Homo sapiens: one gene and its partners. The protein of the gene in region 4 interacts with the protein of the main gene of each other region in a pairwise test. Each region holds a gene or a part of one and is shown on either strand. Other genes may lie near its edges.

Region 1 (8,407 bases), on a different chromosome or scaffold from region 4:
CAACTCCTAAACTCATGGGCTATTCGTTCCACAAAGGCTTCTGTCTATCAATACCTCCATCTGCTCTCTTCTCACCAAGATATCGGGAGGATCAAATGAGGTAAAGATACAAAAACACATTACTACTACACAGGTAACCACGGCTGTGGAAAAAAAAAATCCACCAACACATTTCTCCCAGGCACTTTTCATTTTGGGCTTTCAAAAGCTAGGGCTTTAATATAAACATCCCACCTCTAGACCAAGCCTGCAGATCTGCAAAAACAACGTCTAGACCTCAGAGTAAAGTTATGAGAGAAATGCTCACATTAGATTACAGTCTCACTGAATTACAGGTAACTGCTCAAACCTGATCTTTATTATAATACAGAAAGCTTCCTCATTACAAAACACTTTCAATTCAAAGGATAAGTCCAACGTTCCATCATTCTGCCCATTTTGGAGCTAAAAAAAAAAGATTCTAAATGGTATTTTTATATGCTCAATCGTGAAAGCCAAGGAAAATGGTTTGTTTGCGAGCTAAATTCTGAAGCTTGAACAAAAATAAAAAGAATTATTTCGATCCCAATGGTGCCAATTTTATCTTCTTTACATCCCTCCTCATTTTTTTTCAGTCTGAGCTCTAATCAACAGCCACTTTATGTTTAACATATTATCACAGTTAATGCAATTAGGTCCATAGAACTGTTTCTCTAAAGATGTTCCCTCCATTTGCACTCCTGTGTACCTTCCATTATCATCGTTCTGCCCTAAGAATGAGCATATCGCTAAGGTTTAAATCGAATTTCTGATGAATAGGTGGAGATGCTGTTTCTGTAGTTAATACAATGCGACTACATCAACATCATTCCCCAAAAAATAAAATAAAAATGACTCAATATGCTTTATTTATTCACATCTGACAGAATTCTGATCACCTGAATTCCTTTGGAAGAAAATTCAATCTTTAGAAATACAGTCCAATTATTCTAAATCTTATCAATGTCAAAAGACAATCATATGAAAAACTCCATCAGTACCAAACCATCTCACCAATGAATATTTATGACATTTCCATATTTCCTGTCTTCTCTGTTTACATAAAGCGGTGGTGCCAAGACTCATCTCAGGATTATTAGCCTGCAATACAATGATGGGCCTAATTGCCTTGCAAACCAGGACACTAACAAATGGCGTCTTCAAGCAATCAATTTAAAGAGGGGGTAAAAAAGGCCCAAGCTCTTTTTGCCTATGTGCTTGTTACCTACCTACAAAATAAATTCAGTCTCATATTTTTCAGGCTCACTCATTAGTTCTCAAGCAAGGAATGCACCCTTAACAATCTCAAGCTCATCAAATCTATTTAAATTTCAAAATGCCTGGCTAGTTTTTAAATACACCAGGAGGAGAGGGGAAAAGAAAAGGCAGAGACATCATATAGAAAGATATCCATTACATTCCAGTTTATCTTCTCCCACCTTTAGTTTGGAAGTATGCTTTTTTCCCCCAACTTACTTTTTATGATATACAAATAACAGAAGACACCCTCCCCTCCTTAATTCTACCTTAACTAAATCCCCTTTCAACTTTACCCTTTGGGCTGACTTGACTTCCAAATTTTACTAATATAAATAAAACAAACAAAAACATCACCCGAACAGATTAAAATGGCCCCTAAGAATGAGAAGGTCTCTTCCGTGTCCCCTGCAAAGTCCCCTCTAACAGCCTTACTGCCTCTCACCCAACCACAGCCACCAAGGCTGTTCATTTAAGTATTCCAACCCTTAACCCTCATGTGTCTCTTGGAGGCCACCCCAATCCTTCACCACCAAAATAATCCAACCCAATTCCCCCCTGCTCTCCAGCACAGCTCACTGTCCCTCTCCATCCTCTCTGCCCCATCCATACCAACAGCTCCAGGTCTCCCATTCCTTAAATTTCCCCTGTGCCACCTCACCATCAGCAACCACCTCCCCAGGCCTACCAGCTCATCTCCGAAAGTCCTTCTCCAAAACTCCCTCTGCCACCTTGGCCAAGGGATATTTTCTTCAAGATACCATCCCCCAACTTTGCTCACCCCTGCCGCTATCCTTTCAATGAAAGCAGCCCAGTGATGTTTTATGTGCCCTCTGCCTTGACTCTGCAACCAAGGAGCCACCATGCCCTTTCCAGTGATTGTAAGATCACCCTAAATCCAACCCACTGTGCCCCACACTCCATTTCCATCCCTGTCCTCCCATTTCGGGCCTGACTTCCAATGTGGCCCCTTCCTGCCAGCTCACCATCACACTCCCCTCACTGAATGTCCCACCTCCACCAACTCCTATTCCAACCTCCATCAGCCCACCCCAGGAAACCCCCAAATTGCACTCTTCTGCTCTATCCTAACCCATGCTATTCCATAAGTCTCCACAAATTCCACCAGCCCCAGATGACAAACACCCACTTCAAGCTTGGGTCTCAACCCATGCCAAGCCCCTCACCCCCAACTCCTGCCACCTCCATCATCCTGCCCCAGGTCCACCCCAAATTCCACCCTTCTGAATTAACACTACGCAGGGCCCTAACCAACCCTGTACATGCCACTCACTCTCCGTTGAAATCATTCCCCTGCCCCTCACCCCAGCTCAGATCCCAAGCTGTCAACTGCTCCAGGCCAAACCCAAATCACCACCCTCATTCAGTCCCCTCCCCCATTAAAAGCCATCCCACCCTAGTCTCATCTTCCACCTCGCCCCAAGACCATCCCGAATTCCAACCCGACGCCCCCACCCCACTCTCCTGTCCCAGGTTGGGTTATTCTCCATCAAAAGTCCTCCTCCCTTGTCGCCCGCCCCCCAACCTGCTTGGGTCCCACCCTCACCCCACCCCCGGCCAGCGCCTGGACAAGTCTCCCCCGCCAGCCCGCCGTTCCATCGCGACCTCAACCCCCTCCCCCCAACCTGCACGGGGGCTCCGCAGCCTCCCCTCTCATTCTCGCCAGCGCCACCGGCCCAGACTCAGGACCAGCGGACCCTGTGGCGGGGGGAGTCTCCTCACCGGTGAGCAGCTGCAGGCGAAAACGGCGGCGGCGGCGGCTGAGGCGGCGATGCCCTTGTCTTCTCCGGAGGCTACGGCGGCGACGCTCTCGCCCGTGTCCAGTAGGGTGGCGGATGGCGCGCGGGGACCGGAGCCTCCTCCTCAGCGACTCGGCTCTGAATCCTCTGCAGTAGCCGCCGAGGAGCCCGACGGGTGGGGGGAGGGGACGCTCGGCTGCGGGCGAGGGAGGAGGAGGCGGAGGGAGGAGGCGGGGGACCGCTCAGAAGGGCAGGGAAGGAGGAGCCGGCGCGGCGCCGCGACACGTCCCACAGCCTCAGAGCGCCGGGACCACAACTCCCGGCATGCCCTGCTTTAGCCCGCGCGCGGCCTGCGCCTCCCGCCGCGAGCCCGGTGCAGAGGGGCCGCGCCCTCTCCGGTCACGGACAGTGGAATAAAGCCAACCATCCGCTGGCGAATTTTGTAGACTCAAAGACCACCTGTGAGGAAAGTCAGGTCGCCCGAGGCCCCATCCCCAAGGGGCCGTACTCGCAGCGTCTCCATCCTCTTTGCATAGACACCCCCCTCCCCCCGCCCACACACACACACACACTCTCTGTCTCTCCCTCTCTCCCTCTCTCCCTCTCTCCCTCTCCCTCTCGTCTCTGTCTCTGGACTACACCTCCCAGCATGCCCCTCAGCTTCCTATTCTCCTTCCGGACCCTTCTCAGACCCGGTACTACAGTTCCCAGGGAGTGTGGTCCCTGCGAAATGCTGGGAGATGGAGTTCTCGGTTCTTCCTCCATGTTAAGAAAAAGAAGTGAAAGAGAGGCAAAAGGGAAGGAATACGCCAGCCCACCGAGGATGGGCCTTGATGGGCTAGATCACCTGTGATTCTGTTCATCCCTCGCCATCTCCGTTTCAGCTGTCTCTCACCAGAACTAATGCCGGAGCTTCCTCGCTGGTCTCCCTGCAAATTTGAGGACGATTCGGCAACTTGAATCCAAACGACAAAGGGCATATCCTCTTCTTGACCCAGCTCCATTACTTTTAAGAATTTACCTTAAAAAGATGATCGAACAATTTCGAAAAGATGAATGCACAAAGTTGTTATATGACGTAGTTAATTATGAAGGGAGTAAATGTTCATCGATAGGGTGCTGCTTAAATAAGACGTGACATATACATACAATGCAATACTAAGGAGCCATTTAAAATGATATAAATCTATTGACATGAAAAGCTATTCACAATTTATTCTTCGGGGAAAAAGTTGATTACACAACAGCATGTCTACACGAGTGCATTTATGTGAGGTTTGACACAATATTCTACAAGCATGGAGAGATTTCAGGAAAGAGGTTCGCCAAAATATTAGCAATGATTATCTTGGGGGAAAGGGTGTCAGATTGCACGTAGGTTTTTTTTGTTTTTTGAGACGGAGTCTGGATCTATAGCCAGGCTGGAGTAAAGTGGGGGCGATCGCAGGTCACTGCAACCTCTGCCTCCCGGGTTCAAGCGATTCTCCTGCCTCAGCCTCCTGAGTAGCTGGGACTACAGGCGCGCGCCACCACATCCAGCTAATTTTTGTATTTTTAGTAGAGATGGGGTTTCACTATATTGGCCAGGATGGTCTCGATTTCTTGACCTCCTGACCTGCCCGCCTCAGCCTCCCAAAGTGCTGGGATTACAGGCATGAGCCACAATGCCCGACTGTAATTTTTGTTTTCATATTGTTTGAATTGTTTAAAAGGAGCACATAACGACTGTTTTTTGTTTTCTTTTTTGTTTTGTTTTAATTGTAAGAGACGTCGTCTCACTATATTGCCCAGGCTGGTTTCAAACTCCTGGCCTCAAGAGACCCTCCTGCCTCAGCTCTCAAAAGTGCTGGGATTACAGGTGTGAGCCACACTACACCTGGACAATTTTTTAAGCTGTGCTACTTCCAAAAAACATAATTTCCAAATCTAACAACCTTTCTTTGCTGCCTAGATGCTTTCCATGGCTTCCCATTGTCTCATTCATGCTTCAGCACTGTGCCTGCCTGGTTTTAATAGTTCCACTATTAAAACAAATAATAGTAGTCACTTCCAATTCATAAAGTTGGAAGGGAGAATTTTCTCAATTTTCAATGCGTCTTCTCAAAATTTTTCCATTTCTGGTCTTTCCACACCCATTTTCTCCTTTTCTCTTACTCATTCTTCAAACTCAAGCCAAAGTCCTACCTTCCCTAGAACATATTTTAGACACACTGGTTTTCCTTATATCTGAATTCTTTTTTGTTTGTTTGTTTGTTTGTTTGTTTGTTTGAGACAGAGTCTTGCTCTGTCAGCCAGGCTGGAGTACAGTGGTGCAATCTCGGCTCACTGCAACCTCCGTCTCCCGGGCTCAAGCAATTCTCCTGCCTCATCCTTCCGAGTAGCTGGGATTACAGGCATGTGCCACCATGCCTGGCTAATTTTTTTTTGTATTTTTAGTAGAGATGGGGTTTCACCATGTTGGCCAGGCTGGTCTTGAACTCCTGACCTCAGGTAATCCGCCTGCCTCGGCCTCCCAAAGTGCTGGGATTACAGGCGTGAGCCACCGCTCCCGGCTTATCTGAATTCTTATAGCAGTGGTTTCTAATCTGTTGGCCAGAGATCACGGTGGGGAGAGGAAGTGAAGAGAGAGGTACAGAGTTATTGTAAAGGGCCTATGCAGCTCTGCCTACACAAAGCTATATGTCTTGCACTTTAAAAAAGTTTTTCTCTTCTTCTGACCCTTGTGTCCAGCTCTTCTAGAATACAGAATGTAGTATCAGATTATTTTTGATTTCACGATTTTTTTCATTTAAGCCCTGTTTGACTTGATATTTTCTTCTCTTTTTTCATTTTTTGAGACAGAGTCTCGCTCTGTCGCCCAGGCTGGAGTTCAGTGGCATGATCACAGCTCACTGCCGCAGCGACTCCCTGGGCTCATGTGATCCTCCCACCTCAGCCTCCCAAGTAGCGGGGACTACAGGCACCACCATGCCCGGCTAATTTTTCTTTTTTCTTTTTTTTTCTTATAGAGACAGGGTTTCGCCATGTTGCCCAAGGTGGTCTCAAAGTCCTGGACTCAAGTGATCTGCCCACCTCGGCCTCCCAAAGTACTGAGATTACAGGCATGAGCCACTGCGCCCAGCAGAATTTGATATTTTCAATTTTATATGCCATTGTTCCTTGGTGTTCTGTAAGAACAACTAGGACACTTTAGCTCTGCTACAGGCCTACAGGAAAAAGCCCAGGTTGCTTAGCTCAGAGGATGACTTAGTCCCCATCCCGCTGCAGCGTCTCTAGCTTCACCCCACCTCACTCTAGTTAGACTCCTGTCCCTCAGGACTCACTTTCCCCAAATACATCAGGCACTCTCTTTTTCAAACTGCCCATCTCCCTTTACATCCTATTCTCCCAGCCTTAAAATCTCAGCCCCTCTTCTCCCTTTTCTGAGAATAATGAGAAAGATACCTATCATATGTTGGTGATATGTGACAAACAAGTCTCTTCCTCTTAGTGTTACACTGACCTTGCCCTCTTCTAAACCCCATCTTCTCCTCTTCCATTTCCCCACTTCTTTCTCCTAGTGGCACAAAGTAGGGGCTAGGCGGTCTACCTAGTAGGGGCTAGCTTGGTCTATCCAGCAAGTAAAGCATTGTCTGAGTTAGGAGAATAAATAGGTATGAGAAGCTTACTGGACTAGTAATCTGAGAATCAGATCCTAAATTAGAACTTGCCATAAACATGATGGGTGACATTTAGTAAGTCCCTTAACTTTTCGAAATCTCAGTTACTATAATACATCCGCAAAATGGAAGGAATGAGTCCCGCCTGCCCTGCCACCTCATAAGGTTATTAGGAGAATCCAGTGAAAGAATGGGTGTGAAAGTGCTTTAAAGACTGTAAAATACCACTTACAGTCCAAACCCTTCATCTAACCATTTGAGAATTCTCTCTCTAAATCCCTGCAAAATCATGATATGTAAACTTTCAACTCTGATTTATATCAACATTAATGAATTTATGAAAGTTTTAAAGAAATGAACTATATTAAACCAATTTAATTCCTGGATAAGTTTTTGATATAGCACAGTTAAGTGATTTCTAACTTTTAAAAATATTTTTCTATACTGAATTTTTATCAAGAGATATATATATATACTTTTTTTTTTTTTTGAGATGGAGTCTCTCTCTGTCGCCCAGGCTGGAGTGCAGTGGCGCGATCTTGGCTCACTGCAAGCTCTGCCTCCTGGGTTCACGCCATTCTCCTGCCTCAGCCTCCTGAGTAGCTGGGACTACAAGCGCCCGCCACCACGCCCAGCTAATTTATTTGTATTTTTAGTAGAGACGGGGTTTCACCGTGTTAGCCAGGATGGTCTCGATCTCCTGACCTCGTGATCTGCCTGCCTCAGCCTCCCAAAGTGCTGGGATTACAGGCGTGAGCCACCACGCCTGGCCTCAAGATATATTATTTAGCAGCTCGGTGCTGTGGCTCATGCCTATAATCCCAGCACTTTGGGAGGCCAAGACAGAAGGATCCCTTGAGGCCAGGAGTTCAAGACCAGCCTGGGCAACACAGTGAGACCCCATCTCTTCAAAAAATAGAAAAATTGGGCTTAGCATCATGCCTCACGCCTGTAATTCTAGCACTTTCGCAGGCCGAGATGAGCGGATCGCTTGAGGTCAGAAGTTTGAAACCACCCTGGCCAACATGGTAAAACCCCGTCTCTACTAAAAATACAAAAAATTAGCCAGGTGTGGTGGTGCGCACCTGTAGTCCCAGCTACTCAGGAGGCTGAGGCAGAAGAATCACTTGACTTGAACCTGGGGGTCAGAGCCTGCAGTGAGCAGAAATCGTGCCACTGCACTCCAGCCTGGATGACAGAGTGAGACTTCATCTCAAAAACATAAATAAATAAAATAGAAAAACTGGCTGGGTGTGGTGGCACGCACCTGTAAGTTCTAGCTGATCAGGAGGCAGAGGCGAGAGGATCACTTGAGTCCAGGATTTTAAGGCTGCAGCGAGCCATGATTGCACCACAGCACTCAAGCCTGGGTGACAGAGCAAGACTCTATCTCTAAAAAATAATAAAAAAAGATATATTCTTTATGAATTTTACAACAAAAAAATTTGATTCACCCAACAGTTTTATTTTTATCTATTTTTACTGATTATTGGTGGGTTATAATGAAATTTCTTTGTTAGTCATTATTTCTACCAAGTCCACCTTTTCCTGACAGTAATTTGAACCATTGTTGGATTTATCTTGTATTGATTATTTCTAAGTAGAATTTTCCCAGGGAACAACTTTGCAGATTGCAGTGTTACCAGCAAAGATGGGATCATTCAGTTTGCTTTTTTATCCATAGTAAATTTCATCATGTGTAGATTTAGCCAT
Region 2 (7,986 bases), on a different chromosome or scaffold from region 4:
AGTCCCCAACAGCCGGGCTTGCCCTGTCCCTGCCCCAATGGGAGAACCCCACCCACATGGAGCTAGAGTAGACAACTGGCCAGGAAATCAGGGATAAGACTGGCCTTTCCTTCCAGCTTACACTGCCCTTCGCCAGGAAATATGGCCGATGCATGGACCTGCTCATCCAGAGGGGCCTGTCTAGGTCTGTCTCTTACTCCATCCTGGGAAAGTACCTACAAGAGGACTAGGGTGCCCAGAGATGCAGCCCCTCATGCCCCACCCGCCAAGTCTCATTTTAATTGGAGATAGCCCAGAATGCATGTGCCCATCAGAGGGTACATATCAGTCTATTTTTTATTATAAACAAATAAAAGATTAAATCACACATCAAAGACCTAGACTCCTTCTCTGAGACACCAAAGGCCTAACAACCAGTAAGATAATTTTAGACAATTCTATTGAAAGTTATTCAAAAGGCATCAAGTCAAAATAACGAAACTGCCCCAGTAAAAAGGGGCTGGGCCTGGGGGCCAGGAAAGGCAAGCATGAGGGCCCAGTAGAGGTGGACCTGTCCCTATGGTAACTGAGCTCGGCTTTAAGGCCAGGCATTGGGGATCAGCTGCTAGGAGCCCACCTGTGTTCTTCCTGAGGGGTGGGGGCACCCTAGTCACTGCCTAGAGGCACATGGTCCCCCACCAGCCTACAGCATGGAAACACCCAATGTCTGCTCTAGCCTATTCTTAACCCACAACTGGGATGGGAGCTGGGGACAGGAGAAGGGGTCATGGGGCCAGGAGCCTATTCAGGCTCTACAACCAGACTTCCCTAGAGAGGCCCCGTGCCAGTTAGTCCAATGGCCACACACATCAGAAAGGGTAGTCAACAGCGTTGCACATGTAGGTTGGAGGTAGCCCAGGTGTCAGCCACACCCTGGTCACAGCAGATCCAGAGAGGCAATGTTCCTTGGAGCTGCAGGCTGCTGGATCTACTGCTCGTCCAGTCCCGGGCTCAGACCTGCAGGGCCAGGCCAGGCATGAATGCCTGCTTCCCTGACTCTGGACCCAGGAGGTGTCTGGGGAATGGCTCTGGCCCACCCACCCCAAGCTCTACCCAAAGTAAAGGCCTAGCCTGGGCTGGGGAGGGGCTGGTCACAGTCACAGGCTCAGCTTGGGCTGGGGAAGGGCTGGTGGGTATAGGGCAAATGGCACTCACACAGGGTAAGTCCTCCAGGCCCCTACCCAGGGCCTGCCCTGACACACAGCTGCTGTCAGAGCCACTGGAGCCACTGGCTGATGGGCATTGGGACGAGATCTCTGAGTCCTCAGCAGCTAGGGAGGGAGACTGGGTGAACTGTCAGCACGGGAAGCCCCAGACCCCAAGCCATGCCCTCCTGCCTCTGGCTAGGCCCAGACATACTCAAAGAGGGCTGGCCGCCCAGCTCTGCCTCAGCCTCCAGTGCTGCTTCCTCTGGGAAGCTGGGATACAGGGGACAGCGGAGACCCAGAAGAGCTGGGTCTCTGTACAGGTGCAGGTTGAGGGACCCCAGAACAGAGCAAGAGGCAGGGTCTCCAGGAAGGGAGTTCGAGGCCCCCAGGTAGAGGCTGTCATGGTCAAACGGGGCTACGGCAATGGACGCCCGAGAGCGAACTTCTGCATAAGAGAGAGGGTCAGGTTGGGACAGGCCAGAGCCTAGCCTGGCCCCAGATCCCAAGGAAAGTGCGGGCCAGCACTAATGGAGGGCCACAGTGCTTCCCGCACAGCTTTCCTACTCCCACCCCCACACCCTGTAGCCTGCCTGCTACCTCGGCACTTCAGGACATAGTTGACGGTGCGGTCGTTGATGGCTTCCTCGCTGGGAGCAATGTCTCGGAAGGCCTTGTTCCCCACACCCATGGACACCATCTCAGCCATGCGCACCTCTGGGTGGAGAGTGGACATAAGTGGGATGCTTCTGGACATAAGCCTGTCCTTGGGCCTCTACCACCCCCCAGATAAGTCTTTCCTGTACACCTCCATCCAGCACATTAACTGTCCTGTGAGCTGAGCCTTTCTAGTGCCAGGTGCTCTCCTCCCAACAATCCTGTGGGGCAGGTGCCATATTCCCCTTTTAAAGATGAGGCCCCTGGCTGGGCGCAGTGGCTCACGCCTGTAATCCCAACACTTTGGGAGGCCGAGGTAGGAGGATTGTTTGAGCCCAGGAGTTCAAGACCAGTCTGGGCAATATAATGAGACCTCTATGAAAAAATTTTACAAATTAGGCATGGTGGCACATGCCTGTAGTCTCAGCTACTTGGGAGGCTTAGGTGGGAAGAATGCTTGAGCTCAGGAGGCAGAGGCTACAATGAGCAAAGATCATGCCACTGCACGCCATCCTGGGCGACAGAGCGAGACCCTGTCTCCAAAAATAAAGAGAGAGAGAGCCATGATGCCCCTTATATTCAGAGAAGTTCACGTTGTGTCCAAAGTCAGAGGCAGTGACAGCAAGGCTGCCTGGCTTTGAAATCCTTTCTCCTGCACTGGTGGCTGTCGCTGGGCCTTCTCCCCACTTCCCGAGCTTTTCCCAGGTCTCTGGGCTCCTGTGGGTCAATGTAAGCTCTCCAGTGAGGGGAGTGTGGCGTGAAGGAGGGGCATGGACCCACCCTTGTTGTGGACGGCCTGCCTCCAAAGCAGGTGGGAGATGTCAGCTGTCCAGGCCTGCTTGATAGCCAGGCTGGAGGCCTGCAGCACAAAGGTGTCCCTGGCCTTGCGGCGGCGGAACCAGATCTCGAAGCGCAGGTTGCTGTTCCCACAGCACTCAGTGAGACCAAGGTCTGCCATCTGTGGCCAGCGGGAGAGAGGGGCTTGGTAAGGCATGGGGCGGGAAAACAAGTGGTGGGGCCTGGGGTGGGCAGGCCTACCTTGAAGGAGCGCTTGTAGGCAAATGTGTCAACCCCTGTGGGCCCATGGCGAGGCTTGCTGAAGAGCAGCAGCTCCTCAAAAAGGAAGATGCGGCGCACGGACTTGTGGCGCCCAGTGCGCACCACAAACTCATCCTGTCGCACCAGCTGCCCCTGTTCCTTGAGGTTAACCTGCAGAGTTGGGGGCTGGTGGGTGGCCAGCCTCTTCTGCCTTCTTCTTCACACCCACTGCCCTTGCCCTGGGATGACTCACATCACAGCCCTGGATGGCGTCCATGGCCAGCAGGTCGTTTCCGTGCCGCAGCTGGAAGTGCACAAGGCTCTGGGCCTCCCGCAGCGCACTGAGCTCCTGCGTGGGGCCCCCGCAGGCCCGTGCCAGCTCCTGCAGCAGCAGTGCGTACTTGCCCATGCGCTGGATGGGCTTTAGCAGGTAGGAGGCCAGGTCCAGGTGGTCCCCCAGTGCTTGCTGCTTGTCCTGTGGGCGGATGGGAGGCCACTGAGTGGTTTGGGGGCACTCCCCGCATCCCCTACTCCTCCTAATCTCAGGTTCACTTACCTTGAAGAAGGTGTGCCCATAGCTTGACATCAGGGCATCGGAGCGAGGCTTATTCTTGCTGTAGAGCGCGTACATCCCAAACTGCACCCTCTACAAGGACATGTGGCTCAGCCCCAGTGCAAAGGGGCCAGCTCCCTAAGGCTGGCACAGGCTAGACCACCCTCAGCTTGAGAGGACCAAAATGCCAGTAGATGCCTCTTAGGGAGGCCTCCCCTACAGACCCAGTCTTCCCTGCTTTGAACAAGGGGTGATTTGGCAAGAACAGTACTGGGCAAAGGGGGTGTGCCCACAGGCCCCCAAGGAAGAAGCCCCTTGCCCTCAGACTGAGCTCCTGCCTTCAGCTCTGCTCCTCCCACGGCTCTAAGAGCTCACCTCACCTGGGACTGTCCTGCTCACTACACTCAGCCACCTCCTTGGCAGGCCCCCTTTCCTCCACACGACCTTGTACTTGCTCTTTCCTCTGGGTGGGACACTCACTCCAGCCCCTCCCCTATTCCTCAGCTTAAACATCAGCCTCTCAAAGACTTCCTCTTGTACCAGGTGTCCTGGCACCGCACTCAGGCCCTCTAAAGTGGAGCCCCTGCCCCGCCAGTAATTCACAAGCATCTATCCTGCTTATTTTCCTCCTAGCCCCAACTATAATCTACAAGTATCGTTCTTGCTTCTATGTCTCCTCTACTGGACTAAGAGCACCCTCAGGTGCAGGAGCCTGCCAGTCTTGCTCATAGCTATACTCATAGCACAGGGACTGGCACCAAGCATGTGCCCAGCAGCAACTTCGGGAGTGTGGCAGAACGAGCTGATACCACATGGCCTGTCGGGCTTACATGGCGCAGGAAGGCATAGGCCACTCGTGGTGGGTGCCGGGTGCAAGCCTCCAGCTCACGCAGGAAGAAGTGGCAGTGGAAGTCCCGCAGCTTCTCCAGGTTGCCAAAGAGGTGGGCACGCTGACCGCGGAGGCCCTGGGGCACATCGGGGCGATCCAGCTCGGGGAAATAGTTCTCCATAGTGTACTCTAGAGCCCGGACATACTCCCGCTCCGTGGCCACCATCTCTGCCAGCACCAGCTGTAGCCTACCAGGTATGGGGAGTCAGGACCCAAGACATCTCTCCTTTACTGCCCTCCCCGCCCTGCCTACTGCCCATACCTGTTGAGGCTCCTGGGGTCAGAGCTGCCTGGTGGAGGCACAGTAGGGGATGCCTGGGGCAGGGCACCTCCTCCAGCCTCTGGTCTGCGGCAGGCAGCAATAGTGGCCGCATGGTGGCAGTGGCAGGCAGGTTCACTGAGACTCTGCCCCAGATTCCGATCGAAGCTGTAGGCCTTCCTCAGGGGAGGGTGGGCAGGTGCAGCGGGGACCTGGCTGACACACAGGCTAGCTGTGCTGCCCACCGGTGGTAGCTTCAGTGAAGCCTCAAGCTTTTGGTCCAGGGCCAGCCAGGTGTCCTGGCACCGCGCCCAGGCCCAGCGGCACTCCTGGCGGATGGCCTCTGAGCCCAGCCCCGTGGCCAGAGCCCACATCTTTCGGAAGTGGGCAGGAGGCAAGTCAGGGTGCCTGGTCCAGTGCAGCTGCAGCTGCTGCAACACAACCCCCGGGCGTTCCTGCTCCAGCTCTGCCAACACTCGCTGCCCCTCCTCAGCCCACGTCAAGGCCTGCAACACCAGGGCCGGACAAGCATTAGAGGAAGATCCTGCCAAGCCTGCTGGGCACTCTGCTCCTCTACCCACTCCCCATCCCCACAGGATGCTGTCCAGGACACAGCCCCAGTGACTGGGTTTTAGGGTCAAACTGAAGACCAGGGAAGAGAACAGGCAGCATGACCAAGAAAAGCTCAGGCTCTGCTGAAGCTGGGGCTGCCATCCCTCCGGCCTCATGGATCACTTGGAGCTGGGGAGACTCTCACCCACCTCCCTGAAGAGCTGAAACAGCCTCTCAGCATCCGCCAGCCGCTGGCACCGCTGGGCCAAAGCCCTAGAGAATTCAGTCAGCTGGGCTCGCAGGGCCAGAAAGCGTGCCCCAGGGGGGTCCAGTTCAGCCGCCTCCCAGCCAGTCAGCGGCTGCAGAAACTTCTCCCCTTGCCTGACCTGCTCCTGCAGAGACAGAGACTAGGCTCAGCCAGCCCAGGCCTGGCGGTCTAGCCCCCAGACTCAGATACTTCCTGCTGACATATCGACATGTCCCCATCAAGTCTGTCCTGTGGTGGAACATCTACCCGTATCTCCTACTCCCCACCCACATCCACTCCCCTTCTCCACAGCCAAAGTTCCTAGAGGAATCATCTGTCCTCACCGTCTCGTCTCGCCCTCCGCACCAGCCCTCTCCAGCTCCACTCTGCCCCGTCCCCAGCGCTTCTCAGGCCTCACTGACTCCAACTCTCAGCGTCATTCAGCCCACTCTCTACTGGGCTCCCCCAGCTCCTCCCCACGCTCCTGATTCTCCTCACTCTTCTCTGGTGGCTCGTCCTGCTCCCCTTCCCTCACCTAGGCCATTAAACACTGGGGATCCTGAGGACAGTGCACTCGCTCTCCCAGGCACTCTTGTGTGACCAACTTCAAATGTCATCCAAACACCTGGACCCACCAAGTGATCCTCTCCAGCTAGACCTCTCCTCTGAGCTCCAGGCCCAAGACCCAAGGGCCCTCCTCTCATCCCTCACAGCCATCTCGAGCATGCCCAAGACCGGACTCTTGAATGCCCTTCCCCCAAGATGACCTCATCTCCTAGTCTCTCAGGGAACAGCACCCATTCATCCTTGCAACATCCTTGTCCCTTACCCTCCCACATGGGTACATAGCAAATCCCATCAACTTCTCCAACCCGTCTCCCCTGCCACTATCCTGGCCAGAGGAGGCACTATTTCCCACCTAGACTACTGCAATTGCCTCTTCACTGCACTCCCCATGCCCATCCTCCAAGTCACTGTCTACTCGGAAACGAAGGCAATCTTCCTAGAATATGGATCTGATTACATGGCCTTCCTGATTAAACTCCACACTGACTGCTACAGGGCCCAGTGATGTGGCCACTGACCAGGCTTGTCCCACCGCAACTCCCCCAACTCTTTCTTCCTCTCTGCTCTGCATTTCAACCTCACTGGCCTTATGATTCCTCAGGCACACCGTCCTCCATCCTGCCACAGGACCTTTGCACATGCTATCTTCCAAGCCTGGAATGTGCCCCCATCCTCAACCCTCTTCTGCCTGGTTGACCTCAACTTATCTTTCAACTCTCAGCTCAAAAATCACCCAAAAAAAGCTTGCCTGACACTCCTGCTGGGTAAAGTCTTGGTTATACCCTCAGGCAGAATCACCTGCACTGATTCTCTCCAGAGATCTTGCCTGGGTTTACAGGCACATATATGACTGTGATTAATTACAACTGATATCTTCTATGGGACTATAAGGTCTAAGAAAGCAAAGGATTGAATTGCTTTCACACAGTTCTGCATTCCTAGTTCCTGGCATTGCATCCCAATACCCGTGGCATGAACAAGTGACCACATATACCTGGGCAACCTGGTACAGCTCCTGAAAAGAGCCTTGGGCCTGGAGCAGCATGTCCAGCGAGGGCTCCCCAGCCTCCTCCAGTGCTGGCCAGCCCACCTGCTGCAGCCACACTTCAATCTGGAGGAGCACAAGCAGGGAAAAGTGAAGAGAGCTGCTATGGACTGGGGGCTCACGTCTGAGATCGGGGCAGGGCCCACTCTGGGCAAGTAGTTCCGACCTGGTGCAGTCCGCTTTCCCGGGCCTCCAGTGTTTGGACCAACTCTAGGGCCTGTATTCGCTGGTTGCTCTGCAGGGTCAGTTGGTGCAGCAATCCATCCACCCGGTCATATAGCTCGTCAGCCTTGTCCATTGCCGTCCTGGTGTAGGGTATACCATCTTAGACCCCCTGCCTTGCACCACTCCACCCTGTCCTGGCACCACAGTCCTACCAGGTTCTGAGCTAGCCAGATGAGTCCTGGCATAGAATATGGTGGGCTGGGGCAAGATCTGGGGGCCGGGCTTGCACTCACCTGTAGTCTGGGCTCAGGGTCACCTCTGGGACCTCTTGCTTCAGCCATGTCAGCTCCCGGCCCCCCTGGCATTGTAGCCATGCCAGCCATGGCGAGTCTAGCACCTGCTGCATCAGGACCTCTGTCTGCTGTAGCAGCTGACCGACCTCCTGTGATTGAGGGCAATAAGCTGTGGAGGTGGCCATGGGAGAGAAGGAGGGAGACAGGGAGCATTCATGGAGGGACTGGGAGGGGACACTCACCCCAGGCTCCATGGGCTGGGGCACAGCCTTCACACTTTCGATGGCCCCCTGGAGCAGGGCACAAGCTGCCTGGCAGTTCTGTAGTAGAGCTTCCAGCCGCTGTAAGCAGGGGCAGGCATGACCGGAGCAGCATGCAGTGTTGGTCCTGGGCTTCCTGGGTTCCAGGCCACTGCAGCCAGCTTTGTCTGGTTCAAGCCAGCCCCAGAGAGGCTCCTCCATGATCCCAAGTTGCCTATATGACTGCCCCCATGCCCCACCCAGTGTACTGACCCTTCGGAAATCCAGCCAGGCCTGG
Region 3 (7,986 bases), on a different chromosome or scaffold from region 4:
GCATTTCACAAAGACAAAATCCAAATAGTGGTATTCAGCAAAAATCTTGACTCTAAGGGATGTGAACAAGTTCACCATTCTTCATTTCTAGGAGGAAGTAATTCATTCTATAAGTATTAATTAATTTGAAGATTTTTGAGTCTCAGAACTTGAACTCTCATGACTTTCAAAATTATAAGCTTCATAATAGTAGGGACTGTAGTTGTTTTGTTCAGGGCTAGAATAGTGACTGGCACTATCACACACACCAAAAAACAGTTAAATACATAAATGAAAAGAAGTATGAAACTACAACTATTTCAGTGTGAATTACCTTCCTGTGTTCTGACACCAGGAGCCTCAGCTGCATTTCAATTTCATTACTTGTTACTGACGCGTCAATTGTGGATGCACACAGAGGTGGAAAGGGAGGAAGGGATGTTGTAGCTCCAGGAGCACACACAGATTTAATTGCTTCCTCACTCATGGGTTTCCATTTGGATTCATCGTTCAAATCAAATACACAGGTTTCTACTGCATCAGAGGGTTGACAATTTCCCAGGAACATCTGATGGTTGAAAACACAACCAATTGTTCGATATGGGTACAGTGGTTTGGGCTGTTCAGCAACTGGAGGTTCATCAGGATTGGTAGGTTTATGGATGTACCTAAAAAAATTAAATAATTTTATATATGAGAACTTAAAAATTAAAAAGGCAGCATCTTACTGAGAAAATTATTCTAACACTTAAGGCCATAACTACTTCTCAGAACTACAGTTTAATACTTGTTTTTCTTTTTTATATTTCCACAATTTGATTACTCTGTATTAATTGTATGGTACGTCTTTACAATATTGAAACCAACTCTGTTAACAACAGAATACATTCTATGTATACTGTTAAGATCAAAGGCCGGATGCGGTAGTCCCAGCACTTTGGGAGGCCGAGGCAGGGGGATCACCTGAGGTCAAGAGTTCGAGACTAACCTGACCAACATGGTGAAACCCCGTCTCTGCTAAAAATACAAAAATTAGCTGGGCATGGGAGCACGTGCCTGTAGTCCCAGCTACTCGGGAGGCTAAGCCAGGAGAATTGCTTGAACCCGGGAGGCGGAGGCTGCAGTGAGCCGTCCAGCCTGAGCAACAAGGGCGAAACTCCATCTCCAAGAAAAAAAAATAAAAATAAAAAAAGTTTGCCTCAGATAACATAATTAAAATAATTTGGTTATGCATTTTTAGGCACAACTAACCAAAACATTATTAGGCATGATTATCAACCAGGGAGAAAGAGGACTCGGGAATGAAAAGAGGGCCCAGGGCTGGGCCTCTAGAACACACACATTTAAAGACAAGATGAAGGAAAAACTAAGAACAGCCAGAGAGGAATAATAAATATTGAAAGACAATGATAAAAAAGAAGCTAAGGAAAGAGAATGTTCCATGAAGAAAGAAGTGAGACAGCCAGGTGGAAAGGGGTCCCCAGAGAAACTCCAACCAGCCTGTGCACTGGGAGGAGTGCACACTGGGGAGAAGCCACAGAAGTTCGAGCAATTTGCAGTGGGGAGGAGCTTGGCCCCTCCTCTTCCTGAGTGGAAGCTGGAATTCAATCTGCGAGGCAGGAAGCACACTAGCAGGCAGGAAGCACACTAGCAGGCACGAAGCACACTAGCAGGCACTCTGGCTTTGTGGAGCGTCCGTTTCCCAGTGTTTTTCCTTTTTGTTCAATAAATTCCATTTTTCTCCCCCTTCAAATTGCCTGCGAGCCTAATTTTTCGTGGCCATGTGACAAGGACTCAGCTCTTAGCTGAACTAAGGAAGAAGTCCTACAACAGAAGTACTCAGCTGTTTCAAAATCTAATGACAGGCTAAAGTACTTTAAAAAATGTGTCCAGTGGATTTGCCAACGTGGAGATGGTAACCACATCAAATTTTAAAAAGAAATCATCATTTACAACTTGAACTTATTTTCAGACTTAGGTATGATCATCAGAAAAAAACATATGCCAGCCAGGTGTGGTGGCTCATGCCTATAATCTCAGCACTTTGGAAGGCCGTGGCAGGTAGACTGCTTGAGCCCAGGAGTTCAAGACCAGCCTAGACAACACAGCAAAAGCTCATCCCTACAAAAAAATTAGCTAGGCATGGCTGTGCACACCTGCAGTCCCAGCTACGCAAGAGGCTGAGGTAGGAGGACCACCAGAACCCAGGAGGGGGAGGCTGCAGTGGGCTGTGACTGTGCCACTGCACTCCAGCCTGAGCAACAGAATGAGACACTGCAAAAAAAAAAAAAGAGAAAACTGAAAAAAAAATATGCTAATCATACAAAACTAGTAAACATAATTTACTGTTTACCAACATCATGTTGGTAAAGAATATTTGAGGTAAAAGTTTTCTTAGAGTTCATTTACTTGGCTGCCATAATTGAAGTACTTTTTTACATAATCACTGAAAAGGCTCTAACTAAAATCATCAACACGTACCTTCAAGTACCATCAATATGGACAAAAAACCCTTATAATTTAAAATACTTATAACTTAAGCCGGACACAGTGGCTCACGCCTGTAATCCCAGCACTTTGGGAGGCTGAGGTAGGTGGATCACCTAAGGTCAGGAGTTCGAGACCAGCCTGGCTAACATGGTGAAAACTTGTCTCTACTAAAAATACAAAAATCAGCCAGGTGCGGTGGCACATGCCTGTAATCCCAGCTACTTGGGAGGCTGAGACAGGAGAATCGGCTTGAACCTGGGAGGTGGAGGTTGCAGTGAGCTGAGATTGTGCCAGTGCACTCCAGCCTGGGCGACAGAGCGAGACTCCATCTCAAAAAAAAAAAAAAAAAAAAACTTATAACTTCATTTTAATATCCTTATAAACTTAGTAAACTAACCTGTGTCCTGTTAAACTCTCCCAAAAAGTGATGGCCCCATCAGTTCCACAAGTCATAACCCATGCATGAGGTACTCCTTTTGCCTTGGTCCCAACACAAACAAAGGCTTCTAATCCATATCCAAGAAGAAGGCTGCACAGAAGGTTAGCGTGATCTTCACAGTCACCCTGGAAGATAAATTAAAATGAAGTATTCATTCTTCCATATTATTTCCTCATTACATACTTAAATACTAAATTATAATAAAAATTTATTGGCTGGGCACAGTGGCTCACGCCTGTAATCCCAACACTTTGGGAGGCCAAGGCGGGTGGATCACATGACGTCAGGAGTTCAAGACCAGCCTGGCCAACATAAGGAAACTCTGTCTCTACTAAAAATACAAAAATTAGCCGGGTGTGGTAGCACACACCATTAGTCCCAGCTACTCAGGAGGCGAGGCAAGAGAATCACGTGAACTTGGGAGGCGGAGGTTGCAGTGAGCTACAATCGCGCCACTGCATTCCAGCCTCAGCAACAGAGTAAGACTCTGTTTCCAAAAAAAAAAAAAAATGTTTATAAAGAACTCACACAACACAGAAAGAAAAGTAGAACATTTTTTTTTTTTTTTTTTTTTGAGACAGGGTCTTCCTCTGTCACCCAGGCTGGTGACATGATTCATAGCAGCCTTGACCTCCTGGGCTTAAGTGATTTCCCCATCTCAGCCTCCCAAGTAGCTGGGACTAAAGGTGTGCACCATGACACCTAGCTAATTTTAAAATTTTTTTTGTATAAACAGGGGTCTTACTGTGTTACCCAGGCTGCTCTTGAACTCCTGGGCTCAAGTGATCCTCCTGCCTCAGCCTCCCAAAGTGTTGGGATTACAGGCATGAGCTCCTGTGCCCAGCCTGGAATATTTTAATAGATTAATAGCTGAAGTACATGAACAAACAAGCAAACAAGTCATACAGCAAGAAATGCAAATAAATGGAAAACACTCAACCAATGACTGATAGTATCTATATGTGATAATTTCAAGAAAATACATACATAAGAAAAATGACTGGCAAGAACAACAACAAAATGCCAACAATGGTTATTACTGGGGAGGTTATATATAATTTTCCACTCTTTTTCCAGATTTTCTTTGGTTATATTACTTTCAATTTTAAAAAGTTATAAAGACCTATAAAAAAATAGAAAATATTAGCTGGGTATGGTGGTGTGTGCCTGTAATCCCAGCTACTCAGGAGGCTGAGGCAGGAGAATCGCTTGAACCTGGGAGGCAGAGATTGCAGTGAGCTGAGATCGTGCCACTGCACTCCAGCCTGGACAACAGAGTGAGACTCTGTCTCTAAAAAAAAAAAGAAAAAAAGAAAAGAAAATATCTGATACTGTGTTCTGTGAAAAAAATTACCAAGATATTAAACACTATGGTTACAATTTCGTATTTAAGTGTAGGAAGACTACACGCGAAAGCAAAAATAACTATTTGAGTTGAGTGTCCGAATGAAGAAATTTCTTTTTTTTTTCCTCTCTTTTGAGATAGGGTCTAGTTCTGACACCCAGGCTGGAGTGCAGTGGCATGATCTCAGCTCAATGCTGCCTTGACGTCCTCAGCTCACTGCAGCCTTGATGTCCCCAGCTCAAGTGATTCCCCCGCCTCAGCCTCCTGAATAGCTGGGACCACAGGCACTCATCACCAGGCCCAGCTATTTTTTGTGTTTTTGTAGAGACAAGGTTTCACCAAGTTGCCCTGGCTGGTCTCGAATTCCTGGACTCAAGCAATCCGCTTGCCTCAGCCTCCCAAAGTGCTGGGACTACAGGCATGAGCCACCTTACCTGGCCAAGAAATTTCTTTCTCCAAAAAATTGGATTTGGTGGTGCTAAAGTTTTTTAAAAAAAATTAACTGTAAGAAAACAAATAGCATTTTATAGTTCTTCAAGTGGCTTTACAAAAATGTAATAACCAATCTTTTATTTTTTAATTTACTTTTTTCTTTTTTGAGACAGAGTCTCGCTCTGTCACCCAGGCTGGAATGCAGTGGCATGACCTCGGCTCACTACAACCTCCTCCTCCCGGGTTCCAATGATTCTCAGCCTCCTGAGTAGCTAGGACTACAGGCGTGCACCACCACACCCAGCTAATTTTTGTATTTTTAGTAGAGAGAGAGTTTCATCATGTTGGCCAGGTTGGTCTTGAACTCCTGACCTCAAGTGATCCACCCACCTCGGCCTCCCAAAGTGCTGCGATTACAGGCATGAGCCACTGCGCCTGGCTTAATCAACCTTTTAGACCCAATTATTTCTGAGATTTTGTCCTAAAGAAAATTCAGAAGTAAAATAAAAATATCTGCAAAGATAGTCAGTGTGAAAGTTCATTCATGGCAACATTAAAAAATTTAAAATGAGCTTAACTTTATGGCCAGGTGTGCCAGCTTTTGCCTGTAATCTCAGCACTTTGGGAGGCTGAAGCGGGCAGATCACTTGAGGCCAGGAGTTTGAGACCACCCTGGCCAAGAAACCCCATCTCTACTAAAAATACCAAAAAAAAAAAAAAAAAAGCCAGGCATGGTGGCTCCATGCCTGTAGTCCCAGCTACTCAGGAGGCTGAGGTAGGAGAATTGCTTGAGGCTGGGAGGCGGAGGTTGCAGTGAGTCGAGATCGTGACACTGCACTCCAGCCTGGGCGACAGAGCGAGACCCCGTCCTAAACAAAAACAAAAGAAAACAACAACAACAAAACCACTGAATAAAAAAAAAAGAGCCTAACTTGGCAGTTCCTACAATAGGGAAATAGTTAAATGTATTTTGTATATTGACTCAAGGAAACTTAAAACACTCATTAAAAAACGGAAATCAGCACTTTAGGAGGCAGAGGCGGGCAGATCACCTAACGTCAGGAGTTCGAGACCAGCCTAGCCAACACAGTGAAACCCCATCTCTACTAAAAATACAAAAATGAGCTGGGGGTGGTGGCGGGCACCTGTAATCCCAGCTACTAGGGAGGCTGAGGCAGGAGAATCGCTTGAACCCAGGAGACGGAGGTTGCAGTGGGCCGAGATCATGCCATTGCACTCCAGCCTGGGCGACAAGAGGAAAACTCTGTCTCATTTAAAAAAAAAAGGAAATCAGAAAGACTGTAGCAACACATAGAAAAATGTTCATAGCATAATGCTTAATTATAAAGCAAGATACAAAAATTTATTTACAATTATAATTATGAAATAAATGATACATATACAGCAGAAAAAATATAAAAAGAAATAATAAACTAGGAATAGAATTATAGGTAAAGTTTCACCATTACTGTTGTAATGCTGTTGTTTGTACAGTAAAAAATCTAAATATATATATGATATATATCATATATATGATATCATATATATATGTATTTTTTTTTGAGACAGAGTCTTGCTCTGTCGTCCAGTTTGGAGTGCAGTGGCGCGATCTCAGCTCACTGCAACCTCCACCTCATGGGTTCAAGTGATTCTCCTTTTTTTGTGTTTTTAGTAGAGATGGGGTTTCACCGTATCAGCAAGGATGATCTCGATCTCCTGACCGTGTGATCCGCCCGCCTCAGCCTCCCAAAGTGCTGGGATTGCAGGCGTGAGCCACCACACCTGGCCCATGCCTGGGTAATTTTTATAGTTTTTTAGAGAGAGGGATTTTGCCATGTTGCCCAGGTTTGTCTGGAACTTCTGGGCTCAAGTGATTTGCCCACCTTGGCCTACCCAAGTGCTGGAATTGCGGGCATGAGCCACCATGCCTGGCCTGCTGTCACCTTTATTTATTTTTTTTGAGACAGAGTCTCGCTCTGTCACCCAGGCTAAAGATAGTTTTTTGTTTTTTTTTTTTGAGATGGAGTTTTGCTCTTATTGCCCACACTGGAGTGCGATGGCGTGATCTCGGCTCACTGCAACCTCCACCTCCCAGGTTCAAGTGATTCTCCTGCCTCAGCCTCCCAAGTAGCTGGGATTACAGGAGCCCGCCACCATGGCTGGCTAATTTTTGTATTTTTTCAGTAGAGATGGAGTTTCTCCATGTTAGCCAGGCTGTTCTAGAACTCCCGACCACAGGTGATCCACCCTCCCCGGCCTCCCAAAGTGCTGGGATTACAGGCGTGAGCCACCGCGCCTGGCCTAAAGATAGTTTTACTTGTTTGTTATCATACTATCAACATTTTTAGAACACAGATTAGGAAATATCCCATAATCTATAAAATTAGTTTACTAAAATCAAGTCATTCAAAAAGTGTAATTAAATATACATTTGTATTTAAATACAAACTAAACAAACTAAATAGCATGCAATTCAAGATTTTTTTCTATTTTAATATTTTTTCTATATTAATTTTGTACTGCCATTTTCTCTTTTTTTTTTATGGAGTTTCGCTCGTTGCCCAGGCTGGAGTGCAATGGCGCGATCTCAGCTCACCACAACCTCCGCCTCCCAGGTTCAAGCAATTCTCCTGCCTCAGCCTCCTCAGTAGCTAAGATTACAGGCACGTGCCACCACACCACGCTAATTTTGTACTTTTAGTGGAGACGGAGTTTCTCCACGTTGGTCAGACTGGTCTTGAACTCCTGACCTCAGGTGATCCACCCACCTCTGCCTCCCAAAGTGCTGGGATTACAGGCATGAGCCACCACGCCCAGCCTTATTTTCTCTTTTTTAAAGATGTATTATCTGAGCAAATTGCAACACATCAGTAGTACCAGAAAGCCATGGTCTGGTCCTGGTGCTGTTCCTAATTCATTCTGCAACTTGATTTCTGACATTTTAGTACTTGTAGGTCCCTACATCACAGAAATCACAATAAATAAGAAACTACATGAGAAAATAAAGATGCTGAGTTTTTTGTGTATTGATATTTAAATGTTATGAAAAACAGAACAAGGTTCTGACGTGGTCAAGCTGATAGCACCCCAAAGCGGTTAGTTCCAGGACCCTTGCAAAACAAAATCCGTGGATACTCAAGGCTTATATAAAATAGTATTTTTTTTTTTTTTGAGACGTGTCTTGCTCTGTCCTCAGGCTAGAGTGCAATGGTGCGATCTCAGCTCACTGCAACCTCCGCCTCCAGGGTCCAAGTGATTCTCCTGCCTCAGCCTCCTGAGTAGCTGGGATTACAGGCACACG
Region 4 (7,986 bases):
GTGTCCATGTGTTCTCATTGTTAAGCTCCCACTTATAAGTAAGAACATGCAGTATTCGGTTTTCTGTTCCTGTGGTAGTTTACTTAGGATAATGGCCTCCAGCTACTTTTGCAAAGAACATGATCTCATTCTGTTTCTGGCTGCATAGTGTTCCATGGTATATATGTACTACATTTGTTTAGAAAACTTGATTTTTTAAATAAAAGTTTAGTGGACAGGTAAGATTTGCCTTGACTGAGCTTTAAAAATAACATTGTTTTCCAGATTGATTTTCATCACTTAATTTTACTTTGCTGGGAAGCCATTCGTACCCCATTTCTTAAAAATTTACTTGGGTTTAGGATTTTGTGAAAGAACAAAGTTATTCATGATTTTCCAAAGTTCTCCGACTTCCTCGAAAAGTTATATGGACCCTTCGCAGGTATTTTAATAGGTCTCATGGAAAAAACATCTGAATAGTTTAGACACACTAAGAATAGGTTGTAGGCTCAGCAGCCACAAAATGACTTGTCCATGGGGCCATTTTGCTTGGGAATCATGTGTAAAACCTAGGAAGTCAGTCTGGTCTAATGGCCAGAGCCATGAGGGGAATCAACACTTCTGGATTGTGTTTCTGTTTTTTTCCCCTCAATTTTCCACCTATCCCTGCCTGCTAAGTCACTTCTCTGTTCCTCAATTTCCCCTCATTCTTCCTCATTACCTCCCCTCCTCCCCCCAAAAAGGTCTTTTTTCTTGAATAGTTTAAGTAGGAAAAATGATTTGTCTGACCACAGCCAGGAGTGAGGCTTGAGCAAAATGCAAGACACTACTGTTATTAAGGTTGGATACTGGTGAGAAACTCACTTGTGTTATCTGCCAACAGGGGAGGCTTTGCACTTGGCTCGGGATTTTGGCTACACTTGTGAAACAGAGTTTCCAGCCAAAGCAGTAGGAGAACATCTTGCCAGACAACATATGGAACAGAAAGAACAGACAGCAAGAAAAAAGATGATCCTGGCGACCAAGTAAGCAGAATGGGGAAACCTCTGTGTGCTTTCATCTTCAGTATTTTTTTTTCATTTTCTTTGAAATGAGGAAAACAGTCTAGAAGGCACCCGTTCTCTAAAACAAGGAAGGTCTCACACACAAGCAGCTAGATATATTAAACAAGGACTTTCTACCCTTTGGTGCCCAGGCAAGGTTTACAAACTGCCCTTGATTAGTGATAAGGCTGTCATTGAAACTGATGAAAGTTCTTGGAAAACTTCTCCAGAATATGCAGAAATCCCTTGGAGAAAAACATGTTTAGGAAATGTAGATCCCAGGCAAATATGTCTTTGGTTGCTATGTAATTTGGTCTAAGGCACTCATTTTGCCTTAATAAATGAGGGTAAAATCTCAAAACACCATAAATGTTTGGGGAATGTGACAGAAGATGAGGTCACACGTTGGTGAGAGGTACCAGGGAGACCTCTGGGACCAAGGATCACCATGAGTGTCCCCATCCTCTCTTGTGTATGAGTAAGTAAATCATCCTTGTACTGCCTCATAGTGTTATTGTCTTTTTTTTTTAAGGTATAATGTATTTCAAAGCTTCTGGAAATTGTAAAAAGCCCAATTAAAATGCAAATTAAAATAATGAGGAAAACGATGTAGACAAATTTGACAATACAATAGGAAAGGGGGAAGCTTGCATAAGATGACTTATAAATTCCTTGACACTTGAAAGTTCGTCGATAATTAGTGGGAATACTACCATTTATTGTGTAAAAATCCAGCAGAACCGCAGATAGCACTGCAGGTTACGTTCAAAAGTTTTAGAGGAAAATCCTTCTGGTAGTAACCAATTCTTGTTATCCTCTCATTATTGAAATAAGTTATTGATACATATAGGCCATTAAGAATCTTAAATAATTTTTAATTCTATATTAAGATTTTAGAACTGATAGTTTCAGCTGGTTAAACTGTCATTTATGAACTAATTTTTTATTCAGGGAAAAGTATTTTGTTTGTTTGTTTGTTTGTTTGTTTGAGACAGAGTCTCACTCTGTCACCCAGACTGGAGTACAGTGGTGCGATCATGGCTCACTACAGACTCACCCTCCCCAGGTTCATGTGATCCTCCCACCTCAGCCTCCCGAGTAGCTGAGACTACAGGCATGAGCCAGCACACCCACCTGGTTTTTGTATTTTTTATAAAGATGCATTTTTGCCATGTTGCCCAGGCTGGTCTCAAACTCCTGGGTTCAAGCAATCTGCACTCCTTGGCCTCCCAAAGGGCTAGGATTACAGGCATCAGCCACTATGCCCAGCCTTAGGGAAAACTTTTTAAGAGAAAATCTAGGGCAGAGAGTATTAAAAACATCACTTCTTAGAAACTGATAACAAGTAATTATTTAATGCCTTTACAACATACTGGCTGAGATTTAAATTGGCTCAAAATGCATAAAACCAAAACTAAATATTCTCTTTTCTACCAGCTTCTTATGTAACATAGGACTTTTTACAAATTTAAGGAGTATATGGGATACTTGCCATCTCACAGGTTTGTCCAAGACACTTGAGTCCCTTAATTGAAGTTTACACACTTGCTGTGGCTGGCACTGTTTGGACTTAGGATTATATTTATCTATTGCTGTTCTGAAAGTACTAGATTATCTCATCTTGTCCCAAAGAGAAGAAAAGCAAAAGTTGGTGGCAGAAGGAATAGAGAAAAAGCAAAACAAGATTAAGAGGAAGGGAATAGCAGAAAGAGAGTATGAAGATCAAGAGATAGAGAAAGAAACTTATAAGGCAGGTATAAAAGTTGGACTTAAAATCTGGGAATAAATTTTGTGAAGTGGAAGCCCCTGAAAACTTGCTAGTAGAAAAGACCTAAATCTGAACCTTTTGCATATTTTGTCTTCTGGGAGTCTTTATCTTTACCATGTACTCATTTCCTTTTCCAAATAACTTATTGACTAAATTTTTTTTCCAAATAATTTCAGTCATATTTCAGTTTCTCCAAAAGGAGCTGAAAGCACATATAGTTAGTTTGAATCCTTTGCATTACCGTAGGAGAAAGATAAAGACTTGTTACAGATCAAGAGAATTATACAGTACTAGAATTTAGGTAATATCTCCCAGGTGTTTCCATAGCATATCATCCTAGCTGGCAGGATCATGCAGGTTTACCAATGCACATATCCATGTGAATTTTACTGTTGTCCCAAAATACAAATTTCCAAGAGAAAGCACCTTCATTTTTCCTACATCAAAATGACTTGGTTGTGGTTTTATCATGCATATTCAAAGACCTTCACTCCTTAATCCAGAGAAACACTTCATCTTGTCCTCCTTCCCCCAGGAATGGTTTTGGAAGTATTCACCACTACCATCATCAATGCAATAAATACAATTCCTATTTTCTTGGAGATTCCCATCATTCTGTTGAAGTGTGCAGCAGTCTCCAAGCACATTCAAATTGGCACCGAGATTGTGTTTTAATAGAAGTAAATGCTAGAAGAATTTGCGGGAGAAATGCTAGAAGAAATGCATCCATATTTGTCAAAATTATACTGAGACATCTATTTTCGGGTAGCGTATTTGACCAGGTAGTAGTATTTTCCTTTTACCTGGGATCTAAGTAACATACATTATTTTAGGTGATATTTTGAACTTTGATTTCATTAAACATTGTGAGAACATGTAATTTTATTTTATCTGTCTGCTCATAGCTGCACATTTGCAGACCATTAAATGTCAAGCAAGAATTGAATCCACTCATTTCAATTAACTTATCTTACAGAAGAGTAAATAGGAATAAACACCTGAAAATTATAATACAGCTTTATAATTTTTTATTTTTGTTACTTATATGCATCCTATCTTCTTATTGGACTATGTGAAATAAAAATCAGAGACTCCAGTCATAGCAAACATACGTAATATAACCAGTAATCACTATAACTAGATAAACTAGGGAATGTGTGGAAATAATACCCTTTTTGTGCAACATATGAATGGACCCAACATGTGTTCTGAGAAGTTTCTAATTTTACACCAATGGTAAAGCATGAGGTATTTTCATCAATTAAAATGGTAAAAGTTAATATTAAGTAGCCTATATGGATATTCATTACATCCTGGTCAGTTCACCTTTATTCATAAGACTTGGACAACATTATAAAAAATATATATGAAATCTAAAATTTATTGAATGAGAGATCCAATTGCTAATCTACATTGTCAGATTGGCCTACATATTTCTTTTTTACCTCCATGGATTACAGATTCAGTTGTCTTTAAGTATATTGCCAAGTATACAATTGTATAAAGGGCCTATTAATTAAGTGTCATTAGTCTTCTCATGCCACCTTATTTCCAGTGTTTTGTTGATTAAATATTTTGTGTAATTTAGACATTTATTTAGGCGAAAGAATAGAAACTGAAACATTTTTTGAATTCTAAAAATGAATCAGACAAAACGTGTTTATTTGGTTAATAGAAAACATATTTAAACCTTTTGATTGAATTTAGAACTAAATATGTCTAACATTTGATCTGCATTAAGGTAAAGCAGAATAGTTAACAACTTTTAGTGTTACCATACTGTTAATCATCTAAGGGTGAAACATAGAATTTGGATTTCAGACATCAGCTAAAAACTTACGTCCTTAAGGACAATGATGTAAGTGATAAAGTTAGAATGTATGATTCACTGAAGATCATCTTGTGTTACATAATTCATAATATGACATTTTGCCTTGAGATGTAAGATTGTTTCTTTTTGTAGATTTATAAATAAAAAATTAAATAAGAAGGAAAGTAGTCATAAAATCATAATTCTGTAAGTGCCATAATGAGATGATGATGATAATTGCCTACAGGGAATCTACAGGATTGTCATCTGTTTTCAAGTCTAAGCTTGAAAGTGAGTGAGTTAAGCTGTAGAATTAAATATAAAAGGGGGAGATATAATATAATATAATATTACTCCTGGTAGATCCTCCTGTGTGAATTATTTAGCATGAGTTAAATTTTTCCACCTCTTTAGCTTTCTCTAATTTCTTCGTCAATTTTATTATAACTTGCTGTATTATTCATACAGGAACAAAGTTGATTTGTCAACTTAAAAGTTTATTCCATTATCCAATTAATTCTGATATTATGCCACAATAACTAATGTTTCAATCTTTATTTTAATGTTTTAAAATTTATTTTAATCTGATAGAAAAACTAAAAGACTGCTAAAAACAAAAGTCTAAAAACAACACCAATCTTTCTTTGTAAGAATGGATCGTAATGATGACCTACCATACAGTAATTTGGAAATGATAGCATGAGGCTAAATTTAAAATTTTAGTTAGAAATTTCCATAAACAAAGACAACAAATCTATATTAAATAACACAAAGCACAAAAGATTATGATATACTCCTCAAAATGGCACCAAACACTTAGATTAAGTTGCATTCATTGATTAAAATATGGGCAATACACCTGAAAACAGGTATATTTCATAAAGCAACTGAGTCTCACAACAGAAAATGTGAGGAGTTCAGAAGAAACTGTCTGAATGAAAGTAGAAACACACAGTTGTTAAAAGCATGTATTCAGATGCTGTATCTCAGAGATCCAACTGGCCCTTTAGGAAGGGGATGTGAAGTATCTTATTTCACTGAAGCAGATAAGGACTTTGTTTTTCCTATCTCTGACTCCTTTTTACTTTCACCTGTGTTCTGCAAACATGAATAAGGCAATTTCTGTGAAATGACACAATATTTGAACACTGGCATTAAACCAGACCCTCATTGTTCATTTAAAATATCATAAGTGATCTTTGATGGAATTCAATAAATTTTAGATACCTGATTAAGAAGTCCCCACTGATTTTTAACTCAGTGATCAATTATTTGTACTTCAAGATATTTTGTCACTTTTTGGTAGTCATTTGTTGATGACACAAATGCCTTGCAGCAGAATAATGGCCGGGTTCATATTCACTTGAAATAATTTGACACTTCTATACCTGTCTTTGTTTACATTGATAATCAAAGTCAGGGCTACATTATTACATTTTTGCGACTGCCCATTGTAAAAACAGACAAAAAACCTAATTACTGTCATATTATCCCTTGATTTATGGAGTCACCTCACTTTAGATGATGGATGTTTTTAAGCAATTCTTTGGCAATCCTTTACTTTTCAGAGACTGGACTAATTTAGTGTTTTGTTGTTAAAATACAAAAACAAAAACAATATCTCTTTGTATAGTGTATTCTGCTTCTTTAGAATTATATCATTTGGAGTGTACATCACAAAGTCTTTACTGTTACATTGTAACACTGTAATTAAACTGAAACCAATGACCAAAAACCATAACCATTTAAAGCAAAGAAATGCAGCAGAAAAGTTACCTTGAGGGTAATTTTTGCAAGAAATTGGCTTACATGGAACATAATATAACCATTTTTTGTGAGGCTAGTGAACTAAATTACTGGTGATTATCTGCTTCAAATATTAGCATATAAAGTTAGCTCATAAGAATATGAACTCTAATGCAATATTGGGAAAAAAGGATTTTCCAAAGTCTGTTTGAATAATGGCTCTGAAGTAAGACTGTAACTTTAATTAAATTTGTTTACAGATATTATGTCTTAAAAAATCACATTTCAATTAAAAAGATCATAGTGATCATTTCATATGGGGTTCCCCTTATCCTGAGGTTAATTTATGAATAGTCATCTTAAAAATAAACATTGGTCTTATCAGTGCTCATGGATTGTTATTTGTTTGAAATGTTGTATGATTATCCTATAGCCGTTGAGAGCAAAGTCACCATTATGAAACTCAACTGTATGCTATGAATGGAACTTTTGAGGTTGCTTTATGAAATGTTATCTAGACTTCTTTTAAAAGAGAGAACAAGCCTTTGGTTAAATATCATGGGATGAAATTAAAGCTCAATTTGAAAATTTCAATTTTAAATTTGATTCTTTTATTTTAGACAAATCTGTAAAGAATTCCAAGACCTCTTGAGCCAAGATAGATCACCACTGGGATCCTCCAGACCCACTCCAATTCTAGACCTTGACATCCAGAGACATTTAACACATTTCAGGTAAGACTGGTTTTCCAGTTTGCTCAAATTCTTTACTAACCCAGATGCTTGTATTCCTATCACAGTTCTATTTAGAGATACCACTTATATGTTTATATGGTGACTGTCCTAGTCCTTTCAGATGGGCTATAACAAAATACCTTAGACTGGGTAATTTATAAACAACAGAAATATATTTTTTACAGTTTGGAGGCCTGGGAAGTCTGAGATTAAGGTGCCGGCAGAGTTAATTAGACAAAGGCTTGCTCTTTGCTTCAGAGATGGCACCGTCTCCATTTTCTCCCACATGATGAAAGGGCCAAACAAGATCCCCTGGGCTCTTTTATAAGGGCACTAATCCTATTCATGAGGGTTCTGCCCTCATAAGCTAATCACCTCCTAAAGACTCTATTTAATACTATTGCATTGGAGATTAGGTTTCAGTATATGAATTTGGAGTGGGGTGGAGGGGACACACATATTCAACCATAGCAGTGATTGACTGAATTTTTTAAAATTCCAAGCTTGTAAAATCAAATTGAGAGAATAACAATGCATGAAGCATTTTAGATTGGAAAATTTTATATCTTTATGCATTGTTAGGAAATCATTACTTTACAAAAATGAACAATATTATTTCAAATAATACTTAGCACTTTTGGATGAGGGTTCTGAAATCTTTTAAATTGTTTTTTATCTTGGTGACACAATTGTTTAATGGAAAGATGCCGTGACAGAAATTAACAGGATATCACTGACTGGTTTTCCAGAAGTATGTTAAAAATTTTGATGCAATTAGAAACTGCAAATGGTTCTTAAGTTAGACCACACAAGAGCATGAAATGTATTATTGGAGTCATATGTAACTAGCCTGCACATTGTGCACATGTACCCTAAAACTTAAAGTATAATAATAATAAAATTTAA

What was found.
Region 1: the proteins of TFAP2D (region 4) and FAM168A interact in binary tests that used the Homo sapiens proteins (3 or more experiments, as listed by UniProt).
Region 2: the proteins of TFAP2D (region 4) and PLEKHG4 interact in binary tests that used the Homo sapiens proteins (3 or more experiments, as listed by UniProt).
Region 3: the proteins of TFAP2D (region 4) and CEP76 interact in binary tests that used the Homo sapiens proteins (3 or more experiments, as listed by UniProt).

Annotation. Positions count from the first base shown.
Region 1 is NC_000011.10:73,594,905-73,603,311, forward strand, and holds the start of FAM168A (protein FAM168A), read right to left. Parts: upstream 3,209-8,407; 5' UTR 3,019-3,208; intron 1-3,018.
Region 2 is NC_000016.10:67,281,813-67,289,798, reverse strand, and holds the end of PLEKHG4 (puratrophin-1), read right to left. Parts: coding exon 7,962-7,986; intron 7,791-7,961; coding exon 7,692-7,790; intron 7,599-7,691; coding exon 7,450-7,598; intron 7,297-7,449; coding exon 7,158-7,296; intron 7,058-7,157; coding exon 6,941-7,057; intron 5,525-6,940; coding exon 5,342-5,524; intron 5,087-5,341; coding exon 4,584-5,086; intron 4,510-4,583; coding exon 4,263-4,509; intron 3,526-4,262; coding exon 3,436-3,525; intron 3,355-3,435; coding exon 3,133-3,354; intron 3,051-3,132; coding exon 2,880-3,050; intron 2,800-2,879; coding exon 2,622-2,799; intron 1,902-2,621; coding exon 1,785-1,901; intron 1,633-1,784; coding exon 1,399-1,632; intron 1,324-1,398; coding exon of another isoform or gene 1,311-1,323; coding exon 1,195-1,310; intron 997-1,194; coding exon 991-996; 3' UTR 319-990; downstream 1-318. Other genes in the region: BTB/POZ domain-containing protein KCTD19, read left to right, coding at 117-230. UniProt on the Homo sapiens protein: Possible role in intracellular signaling and cytoskeleton dynamics at the Golgi.
Region 3 is NC_000018.10:12,677,796-12,685,781, forward strand, and holds part of CEP76 (centrosomal protein of 76 kDa), read right to left. Parts: intron 3,034-7,986; coding exon 2,867-3,033; intron 648-2,866; coding exon 314-647; intron 1-313. UniProt on the Homo sapiens protein: Centrosomal protein involved in regulation of centriole duplication. Required to limit centriole duplication to once per cell cycle by preventing centriole reduplication.
Region 4 is NC_000006.12:50,744,245-50,752,230, forward strand, and holds part of TFAP2D (transcription factor AP-2-delta), read left to right. Parts: intron 1-862; coding exon 863-1,004; intron 1,005-6,966; coding exon 6,967-7,080; intron 7,081-7,986.